Linked DNA regions of Homo sapiens. The protein of the gene in region 1 interacts with the protein of each later gene in a pairwise test. Each region holds a gene or a part of one and is shown in the gene's direction. Other genes may lie near its edges.

The links. The genes of interacting proteins can lie anywhere in the genome.
Region 2: the proteins of SLC35A3 (region 1) and CRADD interact in a two-hybrid assay, tested with the Homo sapiens proteins (one large-scale study listed by BioGRID and IntAct).

What each region holds. Positions count from the first base shown.
Region 1 is NC_000001.11:99,990,409-99,994,063, forward strand, and holds part of SLC35A3 (UDP-N-acetylglucosamine transporter), read left to right. Parts: intron 1-3,128; coding exon of another isoform or gene 3,129-3,146; coding exon 3,147-3,333; intron 3,334-3,655. UniProt on the Homo sapiens protein: Transports diphosphate-N-acetylglucosamine (UDP-GlcNAc) from the cytosol into the lumen of the Golgi apparatus, functioning as an antiporter that exchanges UDP-N-acetyl-alpha-D-glucosamine for UMP.
Region 2 is NC_000012.12:93,683,785-93,687,439, forward strand, and holds part of CRADD (death domain-containing protein CRADD), read left to right. Parts: intron 1-3,655. UniProt on the Homo sapiens protein: Adapter protein that associates with PIDD1 and the caspase CASP2 to form the PIDDosome, a complex that activates CASP2 and triggers apoptosis.

The sequences.
Region 1 (3,655 bases):
ACTAAAAATACAAAAATTAGCTGGGTGTGGTGGCGTGTGCTTGTAATTCCAGCTACTCGGGAGGCTGAGGCAGGAGAATTGCTTGAACAAGGGTGTCAGAGGTTGCAGTGAGCTGAGATCATACCACTGCACTCCAGCCTGGTGACAGCGAGACTCCGTCTCAAAAAATAAATAAATAAATAAAAATACATAGATCTCATTATTCCAGTCCAGAACTATTTGTTGAAAAGACTGTCCCCTTTTTTCTGTACCTTTGTCAAATATTGTTTGACAATATTTATATATGGTTTAATAGACTGAATATTTGTGCTCTTCTCCTCTCTGTCCCCTGCCTCCCCAAATTCACATGTTGAAATCCTAACTCTCAATATGATGGTATTAAGAAGTAGGGCCTTTGGGAGGTAATTAGGTCATGAAAGTGCAGCCCTCATGAATGAGATTAGTGCCTTTATAAAAAGAGACCCCAGAGAACTCTCTGTTTTCTGCCATGTGAGGATACAATGAGAAGACAGACATCTGTGAACTCAGAAGAAGGGCCTCACTAGAACCCAACGATGCCAGCACTCTCATCTTGGACTTCCAGCCTGCAGAACTGTGAGAAATAAATTGCTGTGTTTATAAGCCACCCAGTCTATGATACTTTGTTACAGCAGCCTAAGCTCATAAGACATATGGATCTAAATCTGGACTATATTCTGTTCCATTGATCTATGCTTCTGTCCTCATGCCAATACCAGGTTTTGTTTTTTTGTTTTGAGATGATGTCTCGCTCTGTCGTCCAGGCTGGAGTGCAGTGGCGCAATCTCAGCTCACTGCAACCTTCGCCTCTGGGTTCAATCAATTCTCCTGCCTCAGCTTCCTGAGTAGCTGGGATTACAGGTGCCCGCCACCATGCCCGGCTAATTTTTTGTATTTTTAGTAGAGACGGGCTTTCACTATGTTGGCCAGGCTGGTCTTGAACTCCTGACCTCGTGATCTGCCTGCCTTGGCCTCCCAAAGTGCTGGGATTACAGGCGTGAGCCACCGCGCCCAGCCACCAGTTTTGATTACTGTAGTTTTATAGTAAGTCTGGAAGTTTGGTAGCTTAAGCCTTTCAATTTTGTTTTTCTTTTTCAAAATCGTTTTGATGGTCTAGGTCCTTTGTATTTCCATATGATTTTAAAATAAGCTTGCTTGGTTTTTGTTTGTTTGTTTACCAAAAAAGCCTACAGCGATTTTGTTCAGAATTGAATTGCATCTTCAGTTAAATCTATGACAAAGGATGTGATCATCACTAGGAAAGCAGTCAGGTATTAGACACTGCATTAAGTCCTTCCTTGAATCCTTGAATTCAAGTAAGATCTGATAGATCTTTTTTTGGAGACGTAGTCTTGCTCTGCCGCCAGGCTAGAGTGCAGTGGCATGATCTCGGCTCACTGCAACCTTCACCTCCCGAGTTCAAGCTATTCTCCTGCCTCAGCCTCACGAGCAGATGGGACTACAGGTGCGTGCCACCACACCCAGCTAATTTTTGTATTTTTAGTAGAGACGAGGTTTCACCATGTTGGCCGGGCTGGTCTCAATCTCTTGACCTCATGATCTACCTGCCTCAGCCTCCCAAAGTGCTGGGATTACAGGCATGAGCCACTGCACCCAGCCAGGTAGATCATTTTTTTGTCTACCATGGTAATGGTGGTTGATAGTGTTCAGATTTTCTATATTCTTACTGGGTTTTCTTTTTTGTTGTTATTTTACTAATTACTGAGAAAGGTAGGGTAAAAATCTTTAATTATGACTGCATTTACCTGTTTTCCCCTTTAGTTATGTTAGTTTTTGCTTTATGTATTTTGAAGGTATGTTATTAGGCACATATGTGTTTTAAAATGGTTATATTTTTCTAATGTATTGACCCTTTTATCATGATGAAATGTCCTTCTTTGATTCCAGAAATAAATCTTATGTAACCCATTTTGGCTGATATTACTAAAGTTTCTTTAATTTTTTTAGTTATTTTTTTCATGATATATCTTTTTTTGTCCTTTTACTTTTTAACCTATATATGTCTTCATATTTAAAGTAAGTCTCCTGGAGTAATACTGAATTGCTTTAGGGAAAATATAGGGATTTTGAATTAGTTTCATTGGGGGAAGCTGGGTGAAGGGTACATATGAACTCTTGTACTATTTTTTAAACTATGTGAGTCTAAAATTATTTTAAGTCTTCATAATTGCTTGTTGCTGCATTTTTAAGATAGCTTGCTTGAAATTCTTTTCTGACTATTGCAACAACTGTGTCATCTCTGCATTGTTGTCTGTTGGTTGTCCTTACTCATCCAAGTTGAGACCTTTTTTCTGTTTGTTGGTATAATAAATATACTTACTTTGGATTGTTTCCTGAACTTTTTGCATATTATGAGACTCTGTTTCCTATTTAAATCTTCTATGTTAATAGACAGCCACTGGGGAGGGAGGAAGAGTACTGCCTCCTTGCAAACATTTGCCTTCTATAGGACAGGAATGGTCAGCAGGGCTCTGTGCCACAGTTTCTGTGGCTGTAACCCCTAGTGGGAGGGGGAAGGGCCACCACCTCTGCTCTCATTGGTTCAAGACGAGGATGGTCAGTAAAGTTCTTTCTTGCTGATTACACAGTAACCAGTTGAAAAGATTTTATTCTGAAAGACTCTTGCCTTCTCAGGCCTTTGGTTAGAGAAAGTATGTTTTTCTTGGGGCTTTTGTTGTTGTTTTTGTTCTATGCCTTTGAGCAGTTTCAGGTTTTGGGCTGCTGTAGCACCCAAAGTAGATTACATCTGTAGCAAAAAAAATCTCTAGGGAACTCACTGCTGAGTCATCCGTCAAGATCTGATGTCTCTATCCAATTTACCTTATTTTCTTCACCTTTCAGAGTCTTCTGGTAGTTGCTTTTTGTTTCCAATTCAAGGTTTTTGGTTGTAATTAGCAGAAAGAATAAGGTGGAGTGTGCTTATTTCATCTTGAGTCTCTTGGTTTCTGTTTTTTTTTCTTTTTTCTTTTTGGTGGCAGGTGGAGGAGAGACCTGCAGGCCCTCTCCCTTCTCCCTCTCGGTGTTTTTAAATATACTAGTTTTCATATGTTGTAATCTTATTTATTTGCCCTGTTTATTTTGTTTTTCAGGCAAATGAAGATAAAACAATGTTCGCCAACCTAAAATACGTTTCCCTGGGAATTTTGGTCTTTCAGACTACCAGTTTGGTTCTAACAATGCGTTATTCCAGAACTTTAAAAGAAGAAGGACCTCGTTATCTATCTTCTACAGCAGTGGTTGTTGCTGAACTTTTGAAGATAATGGCCTGCATTTTATTGGTCTACAAAGACAGCAGTAGGTATCTAGGTTTTTTGTTTTTAATCAATGCAATTTATTTAGTTTGCATATATATATTGGTAACTACACATTTGCACTCTTGCATTGTCGAATGGCCTAGTATGAAGAATATTTCAATATTTTAAAAATTTTCTTAAGACATTTTAAGTCTAGTAATAAAGCCATTTTAATCTGTATCATGATTCATATCTTCTGGTTAATTCTGTAAATATAAAATAGTTTCTTGCATTTATAATAATTTGAGAGTAAGAGTAAATTTTATAAATCTGTTACTGTTAGAACTCTAGAAGAATCATAATAATTTTTTTACTAATGTAAA
Region 2 (3,655 bases), on another chromosome or scaffold:
ATTGTGATGGGTTTATTAGAGAGGTTTCTAGCTTGGGATTCTTTTCATAGGTTCCTCCAATCATACCACGTAATTGACCTTGCTCTGCATGTAAGTTCAGTGTTGGTCTCAGTGTATCTAGCTTGCAGTCTATCCATGTGCTTCCACTGTGACTGAGTAGTGTTTGCCTAGTGGCGTCCTGTGTGCTAGAGTGAGAACAGTGGGTCAGTATCCATAGCAAGACCCTTCCCTCGGTAAAGGGAGAGTCTGCAGAGGGCCCAGGTTTCTGTGTATACCCAGCCCGATTTTCATATACTTCCTAAGGACCTACTGAATGCCAGGTACTGGGTATATAAAGACAAATGGAGGATCTCCAGATCAGTTGAGGGCATTCATGCGTTCATCCAGCAAATATTTGCTGAGTCTTGACCATGTGCTAAACCAGAGGTCCCCAGCCTTTTTGGCGTCAGAGACTGGTTTTGTGGAAGACAATTTTTCAACCAACGGGAGAGTTGGGGGGAATGATGGTTTCGGGATGAAACTGTTCCACCTTAGATTATTACCAGGCATTAGATTCTCATAAGGAGTGCGCGACCTCGATCTCTGGCATGTGCAGTTCACAATAGGTTCATGCTCCTATGAGAGTCTAATGCCACTGCTGATCCAATAGGAGGAGGAGCTCAGGTGGTAATCCTCGCTTGCCTGCCACTTACCTCCTGCTCTGCGATCCGGTTCCTAATAGGCCACGGACCGGTATGGGAGTTGGGGACCCCTGTGCAAGACAGTAGGTGCTGGAGATATAACAGTAAACAAAACAAAGCCCTTATTTTCATGGAGTTCAATGTATTCTAGTAGAGGGAGGGGATAAGGGCAGGGACAGATAATAAGCAAATGAATAAATAACATTTGGTGGTGAAGAGCGCTATGAAGAGAAGCGGTATGTGTGGTGGTGGGGGTGGTCAGGGAAAGCCTCTCTGATGAGGGGACACTGAGCAGAGAACTGAGTTTGGCTGCAGAGTTGATACAGGGAGGAGAGCTTTCAGATAGAGGGGACCACAAATACACAGGAAGTCAAGTGGGAGCCACAGGTGACAATGTGGCTAATAAGACACCTTCCTCCCTGGGATGAATCACATTCCACATCAGCAGAGGCTCAGTGGCTACCTTTTGTTTTGCTCTCAACATGTGAGATGTGTGTGCAGCCGTGATCTTGTGTGGCTCGTAGCATGACTTTAGTTGATACGTGGATGTGGGATTAAGTAATATTGAATTACATGATGAGAAAGTTATTTCCTTTCTATTTCTGTTTCAGTTCGGTAAGAATGATAGGAGGTCCTCATGCTTAAAGCCTTCTGTGGGCAACAGTATTTAGCTAGAATCTAGTTGTATTGCTTTTTTTGTGTCAACTTAATGGGTTCCTTCCATTTATGGCAAGCAAAACTTTTCTATTTACGAAGTTCCTTTTAAAAATACATGACTTTTAGAGACTAGAATTGTGGTTATTAGGGACTGGGAAGGGTATGAGGGAGGCAGGGATGGGGAGGTTGGTTAATGGATACAAAATTACAGCTAGATGGGTGGAATAAGTTCTAATGTCCTAGCACTGTAGGGTGAATATGGTTAACAGGAATTTATTATGTGTTTTCAAAATGCTAGAAGAGAGGATTTTGAATATTCCCAGCACAAAGAAAGAATAAATGTTTGACATGATGGATATACTGATTGCCCTTATTTGATCATTACACATTGTATGCATGTATTGAAATGTTACCCTGTATCCCATAAATATATACAATTTTTATGTATCAACCAAAAATAAAAAGAAAAATGTTCATAGGAATATTGAATAGGAAATAAGATTGAAAGTATACCAAATTATTTAGGAAAAAACCATTACTTACATTTAAGTAGAAATGTGTCAACATAAAGGAGACTATAAAAAAATAGGCCAGGCACAGTGGCTCACTCCTGTGATCCCAGCATTTTGGGAGGCCGAGGCGGGCAGATCACCTGAGGTCAGGAGTTTGAGACCAGCCTGGCCAACATGGTGAAACCCCCATCTCTACTTAAAATACAAAAATTAGCCAGGCGTGGTGGCAGGCGCCTGGAATCCCAGCTACTTGGGAGGCTGAGGCAGGAGAATCGCTTGAACCTGGCAGGTGGAGGTTGTAGTGAGCTGAGATCGCGCCATTGCACTCCAGCCTGGGGGACAAGAGCGAAACTTCGTCTAAAAAACAAAACCAACGGAAATAATGGTTGGGTGTAGTGGCTCATGCCTGTAATCCCTACACTTTGGGAGGCTGAGGCGGGTGAATCACTTGAGGTCAGGAGTTTGAGACCAGCCTGGCCAACATGGTGAAACCCCATTTTTACTAAAAATACAAAAAATTAACCGGGTGTGGTGGCAGGCACCTGTAATCCTAGCTAGTCAGGAGGCTGAGGCAGGAGAATTGCTTGAACTCAGGAGGTGGAGGTTGCAGTGAGCCGAGATTGTGCCACTGCACTCCAGCCTGGGCAACAGAGTGAGACTCCATCCCCCCCAAAAAAAAAAAAAAAAAAAAAGAAAAGAAAATAATAATGGTGTGAGGATGTGGCCAAAAGTTGCTTTTCATCATATATTTTTTTAATTTAAAAAGAAAGACAGGCATTTGGGGGAGGAGCCATCACCTGGCTGGCATAGTTAAAGCAGGAAGGCTCCAGTTCTAGTATAGATAGTAGATAGAGCTGTTTTCATGATGCTTCACAGTTTTGCTCTTTCAATTTATGCCCAGTGATAGGAATTAGTTAAATTAACTAGAATTTCAAAATTCGTAAGTTCTCTAAATTTTAAACACATTTACTTGCTAGTGAAACAAAGTCAGCAAGATGGAGCCATATCCTGGTATTATGAATTTTAGAACTGGGTGGGACTCACAGGTCATCTAATTTTTCTCTGAGAAAACAGAGGCCTAGGGAGATTAAGTCAACTTGCCCATGATCACACAGCTAGTTAATGTAATTTATTACTGGGACTAGAATCCAGGCTTTGCAACTCTTGATTTAGGACTTTTTCTGCTGCGCAATCTTGGCTTCCCACTGAGTTTGAAATGGAATTGTATTATGCTGCAGTGTTAATAATTGAAAGAGGCTTTTTAAAAATTGTACTAATGCATTTTTTTTTTTTTCATTTTAAGAGGAGAATTTCCAAGGGCCTTTAGAGGTATGCTGGAATGAGATTTCACTAAAATATTTTATTTTTATGAATGCTAATTTTAATCATTTAAAAGGAAATGATGATCGTTCAGTACTGCATTTTGTCACAAGATTTTTTTCTTCCTACCTCTGCAAGGCTGACATAAAGGAAAAGCGGAAGACTTTCATCGAGTATTTATGGGACTGATGAAATAATGCATCTGTTGGCAGCTAATTGCAGGTCTTTCTAGGAATAGCAAACATGTGACAGGTCTTGCCCCAGCGGAGATGCCTCCATTTCACTTTAAAACATGGATTTGGTATTCTTTTCACTTAGAAATTCTGGCTATGCCTTTTTTTCTCCCTTCTGTGGATGTATAGACCGTTCGGCTGCATCAGACACTGTATTGAACATCAGGGTTGATTTAACTCATTGTTGCTCAGCTGTGGCTATGCTTTGGAATCACCTGGGGAGCTTTTACAAAACTACTGATGCCCAGGCTCT